2 linked regions of the Homo sapiens genome follow. The protein of the gene in region 1 interacts with the protein of each later gene in a biochemical or structural test. Each region holds a gene or a part of one and is shown on either strand. Other genes may lie near its edges. The genes, in order: ELAVL1 and CELF2.

The links.
Region 2: the proteins of ELAVL1 (region 1) and CELF2 form a complex in vitro, tested with the Homo sapiens proteins (one study listed by BioGRID).

The regions. Positions count from the first base shown.
Region 1 is NC_000019.10:7,965,689-7,976,696, forward strand, and holds part of ELAVL1 (ELAV-like protein 1), read right to left. Parts: intron 8,191-11,008; coding exon 8,037-8,190; intron 2,103-8,036; coding exon 1,877-2,102; intron 1-1,876. UniProt on the Homo sapiens protein: RNA-binding protein that binds to the 3'-UTR region of mRNAs and increases their stability.
Region 2 is NC_000010.11:11,020,872-11,027,871, reverse strand, and holds part of CELF2 (CUGBP Elav-like family member 2), read right to left. Parts: intron 1-7,000. UniProt on the Homo sapiens protein: RNA-binding protein implicated in the regulation of several post-transcriptional events. Involved in pre-mRNA alternative splicing, mRNA translation and stability.

The sequences.
Region 1 (11,008 bases):
TCCCCTTTCTTTTCTTGTCCTCATTACTGGGACCAGAGTCCCATGTCTCCTCCAACCTTCCCTGTTTTCCTTCCAGGCTAAGGAGCAGTTCACCCAACCCCACCGCCCATATAGCCCGCCCCATCAAGAGCAGGACCGACTGTATGATGGGATTTCTAGAGCTGGATTTTAAAATTCAGCTCCATTCCGTCCAGAGAAGCTTCCCCAGCCTTGTCTTCAAGCCAGAAACCTCAAGGAAGGCAGGCCAGCTTTGGAATTTGAGCCAGGCTGAGAATGCTGGGTAACTCAGCCATGAGAATAACACCTCTCACAGCAGCATGTGTGGCACTGGGCAGCGCCCACCCAGCTTCACTGTTAAAACAACGATGGGGCCGGGCTCACGCCTATAATCCCAGTACGTTGGGAGGCTGAGGTAGGAGGATCACTTGAGGCTAGGAGTTTAAGACCAGCCTGGGCAACACAGTGAGACCCCATCTCAACAAAAAATAAAAACATTAAAAATTAAAAAAAAAAGGGAAATCTATCCTTGTCATACCTGAGATAAGCCCTCGATGCCACTCCTTGAGGTTTTGACAAAAACAAAACAGCCCTGACACTGAGACCTCTGCTGTTTCTGAGGCGACAGCACACCACATCCTGGAGTCCAAGGCCCTGACTCTCATCGCCTCTATCCCACTTCATCCTGGCAGCCAGAACCATTTTCAGGATGGAAAGACTAAGGAATCCGGGAAAACTCCTCCCCTCTAGGACAGGGCTTATAAACAGAATGCATACATACAACATTCACCAATACAAATGACTCCACGAGGCAGGTGTTTGAAAAAGGTTTGCCTTAGGGCTGCTGATCAAATGTCTAAGAATGCTGGAAGATCTACTCTCACCCGAGTATACCTAAGGCAGCATCTTTTCTCCCACAGATATGAGACGTTCATTATTCATTTATTTTTTAGAGAAAGGGTCTCACTCTATCACCCAGGCTGCAGTGCAGTGGTGCAATCATAGTTCACTGCAGCCTCCACCTCCTGGGTTCAAGCGATCCTCCCACCATGGCCTCCTGAGTAGCTGGGACTAAAGGCCAGCATCACCATGCCCAGTTTTTTTCATTACTTTTTGTAGGAACAGGGGTCTCACTTTGTTGCCCAGGCTGCTCAAACTCGGGGCTTCAAGTAATCCTCCTAACTCGGCCTCCTGAGAGCTGAGATTACAGGTGTGTGCTCCCCCACACTGGGCATGAAACCATCTTTAAAGCTCGCGGCTCCGTTCTGCTGTTACTAGGAACTGCGTGCTGAAGCTCTAAGTGCTCACGCTCACAGCAACTGGTGGGGACTGGTGCTGTCTTTTTTTTTTTTTTAATAAAAACAAAAAAAGACAGGTTCTGGCCCTGTGGCCCAGGCTGGAGTGCAGTGGTATGATCACAACTCACTGCAGCCTCAACCTCCTGGGCTCAAGCAATCCTCCCACCTCAGCTTCCTGAGTTGCTGCAACTACAGGAGCGCACCGCCATGCCTGGCCAGCTTTGTATTTTTTGTAGAGATGGGGTCTCGCAATATTGCCCAGGTTGGTCTTGAACTCCTGGGCTCAATCGATCTTCCTCTCTCAGCCACCCAAGGTGCTAGGATTACAGGGATAAGTCACTGTGTCCAGCCTGGAGTCACTGTTTTGATTCCCATGAAAGACAACGCCCAATCGGAAGTAAACGGCTTTCCTACAGACACCTTTCTGATGGAGGTTGTGGTGTGGAGCTGCAGAATGATTCTGAAACGCGCTCTCTGACGGGATCAGTCTATCATCCCCGTGGTTTCTATTCTGTGGCTGTGCCGTCGCCTGCCAGCGGGGCTAAGTATGGCTTTCAGGAGCGCGCACCCTCCCGACCCACCTGAATCTCTGCGCCTGGTGGTGAACGGGGCCTCCGAACCGTCGCGCTGGCGAGTGGTACAGCTGCGAGAGGAGTGCCACGTTTTTGTTCTGGTTGGGGTTGGCTGCAAACTTCACTGTGATGGGCTCAGAGGAACCTGGGGGTTTATGACCATTGAAACTGGTAATTGCCTCTTCTGCCTCCGACCGTTTGTCAAACCGGATAAACGCAACCCCTCTGGACAAACCTTTTCAACAAATCAACAAAAACGGAGTTAGGGGGAAAAACGCTAGGACTTTCAAAACTGAAAAGCAAAAGTCAGGTCAGTCTACTGTGGGCCAGGCTAGAAGTCTGGTTAAGGAAATAAACAAAAATTAAACCTAAAAGTGAAAACAAATGGATGGAGTAAAGAAAACCAATGACTAACAGAAGATTAAAGCTTCAGACTTTCTTCCCGGCTGAAGCCATGACTCCACAGTGTTGGCGCCCAAAGATATTTTGGTGACAGACATCCCCAATAGACACCCAGGCCTCTTATTTGGAAGAAAGCAACATTAGGAAACAGCACATCCACCGTCACTATTTAGCTGCCAGGTGTCCGCCACAGAGTGGGTGCGTGGGTGTGGTGTGTGGTTGGTGGGTAACAGGGTTGGAGTGGGGACTGCGTCTGAGAGATCCTCCCTGGGCTCAGGGGCCACTCTCCTGGCTGCTGTCTCTGGGCCCGCTGTGACAGCAGGCCTCGTGGCCGAGCCTGCTGCAAAGGTGCCCAGCTCAGCCTGCATGCCTTCTCCTTCATGCCAGGAGGGAGTAGGGTCCTGTGGCCACCCCCTGCCAGCTCCATGCTGCTGCTGTCACCTCACTCCTGTCTTGGGATACTCCACTCTAAGGTCCTACACCCCTCCCGTGGGCCCCAAATTGCCATCAGAATCAAATGAGGCCAGAACACTGCCCAGGCTCATACAGCAGAGCTGAACCTATCCACAGGCTCGCCAGGCAGGCCTGGGGTCCCTGTATGGGAAGGGCCAGGGCCCCAGCAGCCAAGCCCAGAGGGCATCTTCTCTTGCCACCTCAACTGAGCCACCCAAGGGCCAGTCCCGGGTTCCCGGCTAAACCCAATCCCTGGACGGAGCAGTGTGAGACCTGAGGACCGTCCTGCTATGGGGGACATTGGTCAGCTGGGCATGGGTGTGAGATGCTGAGCAAGGCGGGTGGAAGGAGAGCATGGCTGTCCTGCACCCCTGCCTGTCCATACACTAGGCCCGGGAGGGAAACATGAGTAGCCCGTCCCTTGAGGAACCTGGGAAGCGGGCTGGAAACTGGATGAGGGGGATGGGGATGAGGGCACACTGAGCAGCGCACTAGCTCCTTCTCTGGGGGCAAGGACATGATGGAGTCAGGGGAAGGCCCAGGGGTGGGAGAGGTGACAGCTGAGAGGCCAGTCTGAGAGTGACATCACTAGGCGGGAGTCACGGGTGTGTCCCAGTGGGAGAGGCCGTCACAGACAGCCCAACCCAAACACCCTGGTTCTCAAGACTTTTAGTCAAGCCAGGCCAAGGCTCATGCCTGTGGTCTCAACTACTCCAGAGGCTGAGGCAAGAGAATCGCCTGAGGCCAGGAGTTCAAGACCAGCCTGGACAACACAGTAAGATCTCACCTCTTAAGGAAAAAGAAAGACTTCCAGTCAAAGGGTGTCTTAAGTCAGGTTTCTTCTCCAGGCAAAGGCCTCTGGTGCATGGTAACAAACAACGACCAAAGCCAGGCAGCCCGGGGCCTTGGGTGACCTGTCCAGCGGGCACCCAACTGTCCCCATGTCCTGTCTCCACGCCTCACACGGCACCTTACTCCACCACTTCCCAGAGGGTCCCGCCAGCTGCCCCCACAATCGCGACACTGCAGGCCCCCCGTGAGCACAGAGACAGCAGCTTTAGTAAGGTCAGACCTAGCGCTACGCACACGTGCCAGGAATATTCTGGGGCTCAAGCTCATTTCTGAGCTGCTGCTCAGAAGGAACACCTGAAAACACAACCCTGACAGATGCTGTTTTCTTTGAGTCTCTCACGACACGAATGACAGCTTAGTCAGTCTTGGAAACCTAAATGAAAATCGAACTTTAGGCAAATACGACTGAGAGCTGACGCTGGCCGGCTCGTAGGGAAGCTGGCTCCAAGCAGATGGCTTCATTCTGTTTCTAAAGACCCTGCGGCCCAGCGGAGAGAAGGCACGTGTGCAAGTGTGGCTTCCTCGTCTGGGGTTGTAGAGTGGCTTTCAAATGCAAACTGCCTGAGTGAAAGGAAGAAAGCTCTAGTAAGGGGGGCAGGAGGGATGCTGTTTAGCAGAGGGGGATATCAATTCACTCAATTATTTAATGGATGTATACTTTCTGAAGATGGCTCTGCATTTTTTGTTTTTTTCTTCCCCTAGTGTTTTTTATTTTTAATTTTTTTTTTAAGATGGAGTCTCGCTCTGTCGCCCAGGCTGGAGTACAATGGCACGATCTCAGCTCACTGCAACCTCCACCTCCCCGGTTCAAGTGATTCTCCTGCTTCAGCCTCCCGAGTAGGTGGGACTCCAGGCGCCTGCCACCATGCCTGGCTAATTTTTATTTTATTTTACTTTATTTATTTATTTAGAGATGGAGTTTCGCTCTTTTTGCCCAGGCTGGAGTGCAATGGTGCAATCTCGGCTCACTGCAACCTCCGCCTCCCAGGTTCAAACGATACTCCTGCCTCAGCCTCCCCAGTAGCTGGGATTACAGGTGCCTGCCACCATGCCTGGCTAAGTTTTTGTATTTTTAGTGGAGACGGGGTTTCACCATGTTGGCCAGGATGGTCTCGACCTCTCGACCTCGTGATCCGCCCACCTTGGCCTCCCAAAGTGCTGGGATTACAGGCATAAGCCACCGTGCCCGGCCTATTTTTAGTACAGATGGGGTTTGCCATGTTGGCCAGGCAGGTCTCGAACTGCTGACCTCAGGTGATCCACCCACCTTGGCCTCCCAAAATGCTGGGATTACAGGCGTGAGCCACGGCCCCCGGCCCCCTTGTGTTTTTTAGAATTTAACAGCAGAGTCCAAGAAACGGCATAATCTCCAGATGAATACACTATAAAGTTCACAATTAAGGTGGATATAGAAGCGAAGGAATACAAAAAATTAAGCTCTGTCAGCTCAGGGTGGGATTTTTTTTCTCTTTTTTTAAAAAAAGAGTTGGGGGTCTCGCTATGTTGGCCAGGCTGTTCTGAACTCCTGGGCTCAAGCAATCCTCCCACCTTGGCCTCCCAAAGTATTAGGATTACAGGCGTGAGCCACCGCGCCCGGCCATCCTCATCTATTTAACACTAAAAAGCCCGTCACAGGAAGGCAAACTCCACACAGGCTGGCCTGCCACACACACTCTGTCTCCAGCAGAGGGAGCTACAGCCCTGGGATGGGAGCCTCACCTTCCCACCAATTCTGCATCCTGGGGTGGGAAGCAGAGCCGGGAGACCCTCCTGGCTCCCTTCTCTCTGCCTCCCTCACTGCTCTGCAAAGATGACAAAGGTTCCTTAGGCCACCTTGAGGTTCACAGCCGACCCTGGGGGCGCAATACTAAGGTGCCCCCAACACCCTGGGAGACACTATCTTGCAGAGGGAAAGGAAGCAATGCCCCCAGCAGCTGTGTGCAGAGGTGAGTTCCCCCTGCCTGTGGCCCGTGTGTGCCTGAGAGACTAGGGAAGGCCCCAAGAGAGTTGGGTGGCTGGAGGCATGTTCTCAGGCATTGGGGGCTCCAAGTGGAGCACAGGCTTCCCTCATCAGGGCCATACTGGACACAGACAGGCCGAGGCAGAGCAGTGCATGTGGGGTCTAGAGGAGGAGGGGAGTGGACTGTGGGCCAGTGAGGTTGGTTCCCCCGGCCCTGGGCCCTGCACAGCCAGCTCAGATGCCCCAGTGCAGAATGGGGGGCAATAAACCCACACACTGGCCCACTGACAGGATCATTCGCTCAGCTGGCACTTAAGTGAGAGGACTTCAGGGACCACAGGAGACTCTTCTGGTGCAGACCAGGGGAGTTTACACCGAGTAACTGGCATCCCCCGACCCTCTCCCCAGAGCAAAGGCAGAATGGCGGCGGCCGTGCGAGTGAGCCCTGTCCTTCGGCACTGCCCGGTGCCAGGGCGCGAGTCTGTGCTAGGCTACAGGAAGCTCCCAGGGCCCCCATGAAGTGCAAAGGGGCCCTTCCCCTCCTCGGGCCCCAGCGGGAACGAAGGCCGGCAGCGGCAGGGCCAGTGCATGCCAGGTGGGGTTCCTACAGCCGGAAAGGAGGAGGAAGAGAGACTGATAAGGCCGCCCACCCCAAAGCACGCAGCTCAGGGGACGCAGGACAATGTGCATGCCCCTCTAGCCTGCAGGCCAGGAAGGCCCCACCTGTGTGCACATGAAAGGCGAGGCTCTGGGCTGCTGGGGGAGTGCTGCTGTTCTCTCAAAAAGAGGTCACCTCAGAGCATGACTTTCTGTGGCCCAACTACTCGGTGTTATTTCAACATCACAGCCAAGGTGCGGCACACACAGTCTGTGTGGGAAGAATATGAAAACCACCCATACAACGCATGGGCCTCACTAGGCTCAGGGAGTGGATTCTTCCCTGCTGGTTAGTTAGCAGACTCCTGCTCCTGCCCCAAACAGAGCTGAGCGATCCTAAATCCCCTCAGGGTGGCCCGAGCTCCCTGTCCCCCAGGCGGGGCCACGTGCAGGGCTTGGCAAAGGATGTGGTGGGGCACTAGTTCCTAGCCTAGTGCGGCAGGCGGGCCAGGCAGTAGGGCCGGAGCACAGCCGTGGGCGTGCACATGTCCCCTGCTCATCTCTGCCTGACGGCATCACACAAAGCCCAGAGCCCACATCCAGTGCCAAGACGGACTGGGAGGGCCAGCAAAGTGGCCAGGATTGCCTGCCCATTAGAGGAATTCGCTGCCATGTGCTCTGTGCACTTTAGATGTGCTCCCCAGAGAGGGGCATCCGAATTCTGGGGATTTGGGCCATCAGACTACTGCACCCCAAATGCCTGCAACGAAAGCCACAGTGGACAAATGTGCAGCAGCCTTTTTTTTTCTTTTTCTTTTTTTTTAAGAAACAGGGTCTTGCTCTGTTGCCCAGGCTGAAGTGTAGTGGCGCGATCACGGCTCACCACAGCTGTGAACTCCTGGGCTCAAGCAATCCTCCCACCTCAGTCTCCTGAGCAGCTGTGATGACATGCCCGCGCCACCGCACCTGGCTGCAGTATCCTTTTTTTTTTTTTTTTTTTTTTTTTTTTTGAGATGAAATCCCGCTCTGCTGCCCAGGCTGGAGTTCAGTGGCGCAATCTCGGCTTGCTGCAATCTCCGCCTCCTGGGGTCCAGGCGATTCTCCTGCCTCAGCCTCCCGAGTAGCTGGGATTACAGGCGCCTGCCACCACACCTGGCTAATTTTTGTATTTTTAGTAGAGATGGGGCTTCACCATGTTGGCCAGGCTGGTCTCAAACTCCTGACCTCAGGTGATCCGTCCACCTCGGCCTCCCAAAGTGCTGGGATTACAGGCGTGAGCCACCACACCCGGCCTGCAGTGTCCTTTTCACCCCATTCATGGGCAAGGCCAGCACATTTGGGTGCCTGAGGGAAGGTGCTAGAATCTCTTGGCGTTTTCACTGTACATGAAATGCTGGCCTAATCCCCAGCTTTTTTTTTTTTTTTTTTTAAGACGGAGTCTCGCTCTGTCACCCACGCTGGAGTGCAGTGGCAAGACCTCGGCTCACTGCAACCTCCGCTTCCCGGGTTCATGCCATTCTCCTGTCTCAGCCTCCCGAGTAGCTGGGACTACAGGCGCCCGCCACCATGCCCAGCTAATTTTTTGTATTTTTAGTAGAGACAGGGTTTCACCATGTTGGTCAGGCTGGTCTCCATCTCCTGACCTCGTGATCCACCCACCTTGGCCTCCCAAAGTGCTGGGATTACAGGCGTGAGCCACCACGCCCAGATATCCCCAGCTTCTTTTAATGCCATCTTACCTCCTCAGCCTCCTCAAACCAAAGCCAACGTCTTCTCATTTTGGTGCTGTCCTCGTTTGCGGAATAACTAATGACATTTAAAATCAAACGGTGATCTGCCTTCCCTAGAAAACCCAGCCCCCACCTAGAGAACACCCTCCCCACGCGTCTGGGGCCCCTCTGGTACCTGTAGTCTGATCCACGAGGACCCGCGAGTTGATGATCCGCCCAAACCGAGAGAACATGTCTTCTACGTCCTTCTGGGTCATGGTCCGCGGGAGCCCGCTGATGTACAAGTTGGCGTCTTTGATCACCTCTGAGCTCGGGCGAGCATACGACACCTTGGGAACACAACCACTTTCCGAGATTAGTACAGGCACGTGGCCAAAGCATTGAGGAGGGTGTTGAATGCTGGGTTAGGAAAAGCCAACACTGTGTGTTAGAAATCATGCAGGGAACGATTATCATCACTGACGCTCACCGCCTGCAGCCGCATGGTGGCAAGCTCACTGAGGGATGGGCCGTGAGCCAGGATGCCTGGCAGTGCTTCCTCACTGGGTGCTCACCATCCTCAAGGAGGCAGGCGTGACTCCTATGTCACAAAGCCCAGCAACTGAGGGCCCGCAGCTTGTGTGTGGCTACCTCTCTGATGTGCTGGACAGTGAGCCGGTGCCAGAGAGGTCCTGGTGCCTGAAAGCAGCCCGTGCTGCAGCGGGCAAGCAAGCTGGGAGCTACTGGGAACACAGGAGACTCCCCTGCCAAAGAGCAAGCTCGCCACAGAAGCCCTGACAGGGGCTGTGAGTTCTGGGAGGACCCCGAGTTTGTACTCAAATCCACTCAAGTGTTCAATATTAAACGACTCAATGCCTTTTGGATTTATATTTTGCAAAATCAAAGAAAACTGAAGAGAACCTTCTGGGTGCTTTGACAAAATGGTACATTCATCATTCGTGTGGAGAGGGTGGTGAGGGGAGCCCGGAGGCCAATGCAAGACAAGGTCTTCGGTGCTTTCTCAGGTTGGCGCTGACGGCCGTGCAGACCCCATGGGCCCAGAAGGAAGAAAAGGACCACAGTGGAACCCCTCTGCCTGTGAAGGGGCAGCCTGGCAGGACTCACAGCCTCGTCAGGAGGCTGGGATATGGAGGAGGGAGCAGGAGATGTGTTCCCGAGAAGGGTGGGGACTTGAACCTGTGCGAAAGGAAGTTCATTCCCTTTGAGTGAGGGGCACAGAACTGATGAGCCAAGGTAACTGAGACCAGAACGCAGGGAGAAGCCGCCACTCAGGAGTCACTGGGCAGAATCTGCGTGCTGAGAACACACACACAGCATCCTCTGAGAAGCTCCTATCATGTTCCAGAGAAGGAACAACAGACATTGCCCCTGCTCATAGGGCAGTGGGCGGCCCAGCAGGGGAACAGGACAGCCCCACGAGGAGAGGAGTGTGGGGCTGGAGGCCAGCTCTGCCTGGTAGCGGTGGGAATCGAGGGAGCATGTCACTACGGAGCCCATGAGGTCTCTGGGGAAGCCGTGCTGCTCCCAGGCCCGGGGCACCTCCATCAGCCTGTGGACAGGAGCTCTGGGGACACTTGCTCACCCCATGATGTGGGTCAGGGGCTGCCAGTGCTGTCCCCAGAGAAAAAGAGGCTGCCTTGGCCCCCAGCCTCCCCTAGTGTCCGGGCTTGCCCTGGCTCCCTGCAGACCTGTCTGGACTGGGGCAGTATTTGGGGGCCTGCCAAACCATGACCCTGGCGCCAGTGGAGCGGAGCTGAGGCTGGCACTGACTGGACCTACTGCCGTCCCTGGATGAAGCCCCAGAGGAGAAGTGCCCTAGAGCCAAATGCTGGGGAAAGCTCTGATGCCTCCCAAGGACAGGTGTCTCCAAGGACCATGGGAACTCTGCTTTCCTCTTCTCTCTGGACACTGTCATGTTCAGTCAGGCTAGAATCAGAACAGCTGGCGCACAGCAGGCGTGCACTGACCTGGGGCTCCCCGGCCCCTCGGCCAGAACCCTCTTTCCTAAGCTCCCAACATCGCTTGCTCTTTGGCCTCAATCAGGTCTTTTTCTGGCTGCCCATTCTCAAGAATTCATCCAGTGAGGGGTTCAATCGTGTTCCCCCCACCCCACAATCCAAATTCATATGCCGAAGTCCTAACCCCTTGGGACCTCAAAACGTGACCTGATTTGGATACAGTCATTGCGGATGTAATCAGTTAAGACGAGGTCACACTGGTATAGGGTGATCTCTAATCAAATGTGACTGATGTCCTTATAAAAGAGGGAAATTTAGGCCAGGTGTGGTGGCGCAGGCCAGTAATCCCACTGTTTTGGAGGCTGAGTGGGAGGATCGCTTGAACCCAAGAGTTCAGCCTGGGCAACATGGCAAGACCCCATCTCTACAAAAAAAATTAGCTGGTCGTGGTGGGGCATACCTCTATTCCCAGCTACTCGGGAGGCTGAGGTAGGAGGATCACCTGAGCTCAGGAGTTTGAGGCTGCAGTGAGCCGTGATCACATCACTGCAGTCCAGCCTGGGTGACTGAGTGAGGTCCTGTCTTTAAAAAAAAAAAAAAAGTATTTTTTTTTGGCTGGGCGCAGTGGCTCATGCCTATAATCCCAGCACTTTGGGAGGCCGAGGCGGGTGGATCACGAGGTCAGGAGATCGAGACCATCCTGGCTAACATGGTGAAACCCCATCTCTACTAAAAATACAAAAAATTAGCCAGGCATGGTGGCAGGCGCCTGTAGTCCCAGCTACTCGGGAGGCTGAGGCAGGAGAATGGCGTGAACCCAGGAGGCGGAGCTTGCAGTGAGCCGAGATCGCGCCACTGCACTCCAGCCTGAGTGACAGAGCAAGACTCCATCTCAAAAAAAAAAAAAGTATTTTTTTTGAAAACATAAATTCAATTTAGAAAGGCGGGAAATGTGGATACAGGCACTCTCACAGGGAGAAGTCTGTGTGAAGATGGAGGCAGACACTGGGGTGATGCTTCTCTAAAGCAAGCAGTGCCAGAGACCACCAGCCTCCACCAGAAGCTGTGAGAGAGGCCTGTGACAGATCCCTTCCCAGTGCCTTCAAGAGAAACCAACCCTGCTGACACCTTGGTCTCGGGCTTCCAGCCTCCAGAACTGTGAGTTGATACCCTTCTTCTGTTGAAGCAA
Region 2 (7,000 bases), on another chromosome or scaffold:
ACTGTGGGACAGGTAAGCAGCGTATTTTATTGTCCTTATTTTCTAGACGAGGAATCTTGACAAGTCAACTGAGACTTGAAGTAGGCATGGAACAGATTAGAAGGCAGGCCAGGCATTCTCATAAGACAGTGGCAAAGGACGCCTAGCCTTGAAGGATGCCCTTCCACTCTGGTGCTGGGAGAGGCCCTGAAGCCATGTCCCTAGTGGTTCCATTCTACGACATACAGGGCAAGTCGAACAATCCAAGAGGAAGTTACTTCCATGAAAAATTAAAAACCACGCATAGCCAATGGAATGAAAATGGTCTTTGTAGTAAGAAAAAGTATTTCCTCAATTCCTCCCGAAAGAAAGGTAAATTCTGTAGCAAGTACTCAACCGAGGTGAAGATAAAAAAAACGACTTGCCTCTCAGTCTCCTCTCCAACACAGGAAAGGGGCCCTTATGTAAGGGGACTCTAAGACACCAGAAGTAAAAATGCATTCCCAAGCGCTCTAGGTACCCAGAAGAGGAAGAAACACCGTCCATTTGATGCTGGCGGCAACTTTCGGACATCAGAGCGTAAAAGAAAAGGGGGAACGAGCAGACAGGAAAACATGAGCTTGTGGTGAAAAGAAAGAAGAATCCCAAATGCACGAGGAGGCAATGTAAGGATGGCTTAATATTAAGAAACTGCTTTGAGACAGAGCTGCCAGCAGCATTCAGGCTTCTCAAAGGATTCCTGTGTTATCTCTCAGTCCTGACACCAAGAAAAGATGGCTGGCTGGACAATGGGAGTCACGAGCAAAGATGTTACCAGCGTGGACTGAAGTGACTAATTGCAGTTGGAGGCCTCCTGGTGACAATTTTGAGAAGGCAAACACAGCTGCAGCATAGCCAAATATAGCTGGCCCAGACAAAGACATCCATAAAGTTAATCATTCCGAAACACGCCACCCTTATGCTCAACTCGAAAACTCAACACTCCTCCTATAATGTAGGAAGTCAAAATACAGTTCAATGCGCAGAAACAAGCAGCTGCTCCAGTGGAATTTACAAGTGATGAGCTAGGTATTTGGATACTGCTCTCCTCCCGAGGCTCCAACCCTGAGAACTAAGTCCCAGACGGCTGTGGCCCCTTCTGTTGAAACTTAGGAAGCCGCTCAGGAAAAGGATAAAACGGGCATTAAAGGAGATTTTTTAAAACATATATATAAATCAGGAAAACATAAGAAGGGCAACAAGACAACTTCAGAGAAAGCTGTACTCTGTACTGGTTATGACCACACTGAATCTAGGCCAGGGTACAGAGATTCAGGAGTGAAGAGCAAAACAACGAAGTAAATCCACATTAGTCCTCTAACAAATGCTTTCTGTCTTCACACTTTTGGGTATCATCTTTCTATTATTCCCCTAAGAGTTTTCAAGGACCAAATGATTTCAACCCTGTTTTACTTGATACCCAATGTCTTCCCCCCGAGTTCCAAAGAGAAAACACCTGGGTGTGTGTGGCGGGGGAGGCGGGTAGGTATTTAAGTTGGTTTAAACCAATTTACCCACTTCCGGGCTTGTGAATCTGCTGTAACGTTCACCTTTTTTAAGTGTTCAGTTTATATGCTGGACTCCCATTAGACAATAAAAATTTCAAGGACCCCTTTCAACAGCAACAGGTGGCAGTGGGATCATGACATGGATCATATAAAATGGAAGCAGCAGCCAAGAGGCACAAGGTAGGGGGTGTGGTCCGCGGAGGACCGTATGTGTCTGCATAACAAGAAAACATCCGTGGAGGCCCAACTGTCCAGATTTCTCTGTGAAGTCTGTTTTTCTTCCTACTCTAACTCTGAAAAGACCTCAGGAGTAGCAACATCTTAATTGCCACTGAGAAACAGAAGAAGCCCCCAGATCCAAGGACTCAGCAGTGAGGAGAAAAGAGGCCCTCAAAAGGGAAAGAGTCTGAGCTTTTCACCCAGTAACATGGCAGAACTGCCAGAGTGAGGTTGTCTTCACCCTTCATCAGAGTTAATCCAAAGTTCTGGGCAGAAGAGTTGAAATACAGTCCTGAGACTTTTTTCTAGCAGTATCACTAATTTGCAGTACATCTTTGGTCACAATGTGAAACTTTTCTGAACATAAAGTCTTTCAGTTACAATGGTAATAATCCAAAAACACAAGTATGATCACTTTTGTAACCAAAGACCATTTCGTGGTAAATATTTTAAGAAAGCGAAGACCTATGCTGTATTAGTCCATTTTCAAACTGCTATAAAGAACTGCCTGAGACTGGGTAATTTATAAAGAAGAGAGTTTTACTCAACTCACAGTTAAGCATGACTGGGGAGACCTCAGGAAACTTACAATCACGGCAGAAAGGGAAGGGGAAGCCAGGCACCTCCCTCACAAGGTGGCAAGAAGGGAAAGCGTTGAACGAAGGGGGAAGGGCCCCTTATAAAACCATCGGATCTCGTGAGAACTCGCTACCACGAGGACAGCACACGAGAAACTGTCCCTATAATTCAATTACCTCCACCTGCTCTCTCCCTTGACACGTGGGGACTATGGTGACTACAATTCAAGATGAGATCTGGGTGGGGACACAAAGCCTAACCATATGTCCAATAAGATGACTTTCCAGATATACAGTCACATACATATACACACACACACACACACACACACACACACACATATATGTATATACCCCCACACATATTTCAGGCCTACTGACCACATTCAAGTAAATGACAAAATACTTTACTCTTTTAGCCTAAAAGACCAACTGATTGTCTTTGTGTCAAATAAATGAGGGTCAACTTTCCTGCTACTAGGAGAAAGGAAGACATAATTTGGGAGAAAGGATATAAAATACCACCTTAAAATTTAATGAGTTTTACTCAAGCTGTGAACTTTCTTTAGAAAAAGCATAAAATCAAGACTTTCAGCATAAAAGCACAGAATTTTAGACTTAGTATGTAAATCAAAGTACTTGGGAGTACACTGTTATGGTACCAGAAACAATTTAAGCTGTCCAAAAGCTATGTCAAGATGTGAAATAAATCAGCTGACCTTAATTTCATTGTCCCTGAGTAGTGAGTCACCACCTTCATCTGTGAAAGTAGGAAATCTTCAGTCCTATTGGAGCTTGTAAATGTCAGACAAATCAGCTGTGGCACTGGGGAGACTGGATTTCCATGGTTATGACAGAGAGCACTGCATACAGTCTCACTGAGGAGACAAACTTCCGGGACTTCTTCATTATTATTATTATTATTACTATTATTATTCTTAGAAGAAGAAGACGGAGTCTTGCTCTGTCGCCCAGGCTGGAGTGTAATGCTGCCATCTCAGCTCACTGCAACCTCCACCTCCCAGGTTCAGGCGATCCTCCCCCCTCAGCCTCCCAAGTAAGTGGGACTAGAGGCATGCGAAACCACGGCGAACTAATTTTTGTATTTTTAGTAGACACAGGGTTTTGCCATGTTGGCCAGGCTGGTCTCCAACTCCTGAAGGTGATTCGCCTGCCTCGGCCTCCCAAAGTGCTGGGATTACAGGCGTGAGCAACCGTACCCGACTGACTTCTTTAATTACTGAGATTTAAAATCAAAATATTGTATCTAACTCCTACCTTTAAAGCACTAGAGGAATCCTGGCAAACTGGTCAACTACCTAGGTGACTCCTGGGCTGCTGATCTGGAGGACGCACAGATTGTTTAAATGAAGATCTCTTCAGAATAGATTTCTTCATTTAAAACCCAACCTTAAGTAAAAGGCCACATAACCTGATAGAAAAACACAGACTAATAAAGCCGACCTGATAGTTTAAATACAGCCTAAACTTAATTTACATAAATCTTTAGGAGGAAAAAAAATGGGTCTAATAATTTGCTGGTTATGTTGGCTCTGAGGCATTCACTCAAATGGAGTAAATAAAATTTAACCAAAACCTGAATTTGTACTCATACGTCATTTTGAAAACCACAGGACTACACACTTATTAGCATTACATTTTAAATTATCAGCTGATTTTAAAACATCACTTTTAGTATCTAAACAGAACATACAATCTGCAGTTCATAAAAGAGACTGTTCATAAAACTCCAGGTTGGCACGGCCAATGCGTAAATCTCAAATACGCTCACAAGGCATTTCAGCCACATAACTGGAATTGTATTTCTATAAAAACAGTTGGAGTAATCACTTTCTGTCATGATTTAGAACAAATGGGGAGAGTGAAGCTGTTCAAAATCTCCCTCAATGTCTTCCCCTTTCTTTTAAAAGTCCTTTAGGAGGAGTCTAAAGCTCTCACTAAATGAAAAATACATTCCCAGGAGGAGGAGATGGTTTCCATCCCTTCACATCTGGATTCAGAGCATGAGGATATTGGATGGAACAATTACACGGTGATGATACTAAAGGGGAATAATTATTTTACAATTACCTGAAAGCATCACATTTGCTGCTCTAATTAGTTTTTGTTTCCCACATAGGTTTTTCCCAGGAATGTGCAGCTCCATTTCTCTTAAGTTTAGCAAGAGCTGTTTCTTAAGGAAAAATAAAAATACATTTTCTGCACTGCTACACAAGTAGCACACCACTGATACTGGCTTCATTATATTACTCGGCACCTCCTTGGTGGAGGAAACAAACAGGATGCATGAGAACTTGTAGGTGCTAATGAACTGGAAATCATTAGTAGTTTCCAAACCCTCCCTTCTGTGGTTCTGTAAAACAAACATTACACTGACAAACATCTAACTCTTTGTGATGGCCTAATCCGAAAACAAAAAGCGAAAATGTGACCCTCCCGTGAAGAAACAAAATCTCCCAAACGGTAATACTCTAAAGTGGAAATAATGACCTATTAAGTTTGGGTAAAGTGCAGCATTGAACATAAGCAACATTGATGACTTATTAATTTTGCTCCTTGACTCATGTTGAAAATATAACATTTTCCATTTAAATGCAAATTAGATACGGAATGCTTATAGTACTGCTTAACATTTATGAGAGTTTGTTTTCATTTTTGTCGGTTTTTACAAAAAATTCAACAATGACATCATATTCCCATTATAATCTACATATAAGTCTCAACAATGATCGCTACCCTGATTTTTTGCCCAAGAGCTGGGTCATATTGGGCGCTGGCTGTATTACACTCAGCTGTATCAGATCATTTTGCATGCCAAACGTAACCTGTCTTTTTATGCTAAGTAAACGAGTGTTTAACCTTTAATAAAAGTAAGGAAGGGGTAAAGAGAAATGAAGTTTGGGGATTTATGTAAAAAAGCTAAGGATATTGCAGTCTTTTACCAGAGGCCAAATACAGTGTTATTGTAGCTGTCAGGGGAGAAAAAAAAAACAACCAAACACTGAGAAGTGGAAAACACTCCAAATGATCCCATGAAATCTTAATTACTAGGTTCATATCCAAAAATCCCATCACCTTTTTATCTTGTCTTTCAAGGGTCTTGTTTCCCCAGCTCACTGCATCTCATCAACAGATGCCAAAGTTATCTCAACCCAGCAAATTGCAATTAAACAGCAAGATTAAACAATTAAAATAATACCTCTGCCCAGATCAAAGATAACATCAGTGTTCTAAAAAGCCAATGTGGGATGAATTCTTCCTCTCGGAAAGCAGCTGATAACATGTGCTGTTAACGGAGCAATCTCAACTGAAAAAAACACTTCAAAAATTTTCCTTAAAGAACCATACGCAAAGTCTTTTCTTTAGACTTTTCTCATTTTAATTTCCTTTCATGACCATCAGAGTATCAGGTGATAAATGCCAGTTATCTCCGTATTATTTATAACTGCATTTTCTAAATAGACTTTAAATGCCCATGGAGGAGAAAAACAGAACCCCACTGCTTTTGATCTTTATCTTGCTGGAACCTTGTAAACCAAAAAGATTTTTAATTAAAACGTATTCTGCTTAGTTAATAAATATATGGAATAACCGAATTGGAATCAAATTAGAAAGTATAAAATGATGTTTCACATACATCAATCCTGATCAGGTGACATACTTATTTCTTATGCTCATTCTCACATGGCACAGTTTTGATTTTGATAAAAGGGTATGTCATATCCTTTAATTCAGTGTTCTTCTCTGCATCAACCCATGAACATTACATGCCACCCCACATGTGTTCACTTACTTGAAAACCACAGTTTTGCCATTTACTGCCTATGTGGCAGGGGCAAGCAGGTCACCTCTTTAAGCATCATCTGTAAAATGTGGGCAATATCCACCCTGCAGATTAGAGACGGTGTGAATAAACTATCCTGGCGCATGGCAGGCACTCAACTAACAACTCACGTTTCCTTATTTTGGGGGGAGGCAGTAATTACTTCTTGGACTCGTCACACTGCCCCTCTAACAGTTTCTTAATCTATAAAATGAGGTCTGATGAGATGGTCTCTAAAGCCCTTTTCAGCTTTAACAATGATGTCCTTAGAACCACCCTTCAGTTTAATTATACACTGATAGATATTTTGCCAGTTATCCTAACTTGAAAGGACTTAACAAAAAGCTAGTTCATTAAGCTGATGAATTTACAGTCAACATAACTTTTCTCATTTTCAATAAGGTTACCTACCAAATGTAAAAAAAATTTATTTTTAATTTATTGGTAGACTCTTCTCAGTGTCTTATTCTAACACCTAATGCTTTTTAAGCTGTGTTTATCAGTCTAACTGTAATTTCTCATTTCTGAGACTTTATTTATTAGCTTTGTTTAAAAATCCAAAACCATTTACAAACCCTAAATGCATGTATATGGTCATTAAAAAGGTGAATCAAAGGAGGAAACACTCTCCACCATCTTAATTGAAAATCAACTGTCAGTTTAAAATCAAATTTAAAAAAAAATCAGTGCCTGTTTTCATTATGCTGTGTGGCTAATATTGTAGATGATATTGTATAGTAACACAAAGACAATGAAACTTTAATAGCCAAGATTATTTAAAATGTCCATTTCCATTTATAGTTTTGATACCGAATGTTTAAAACCCCAAAACT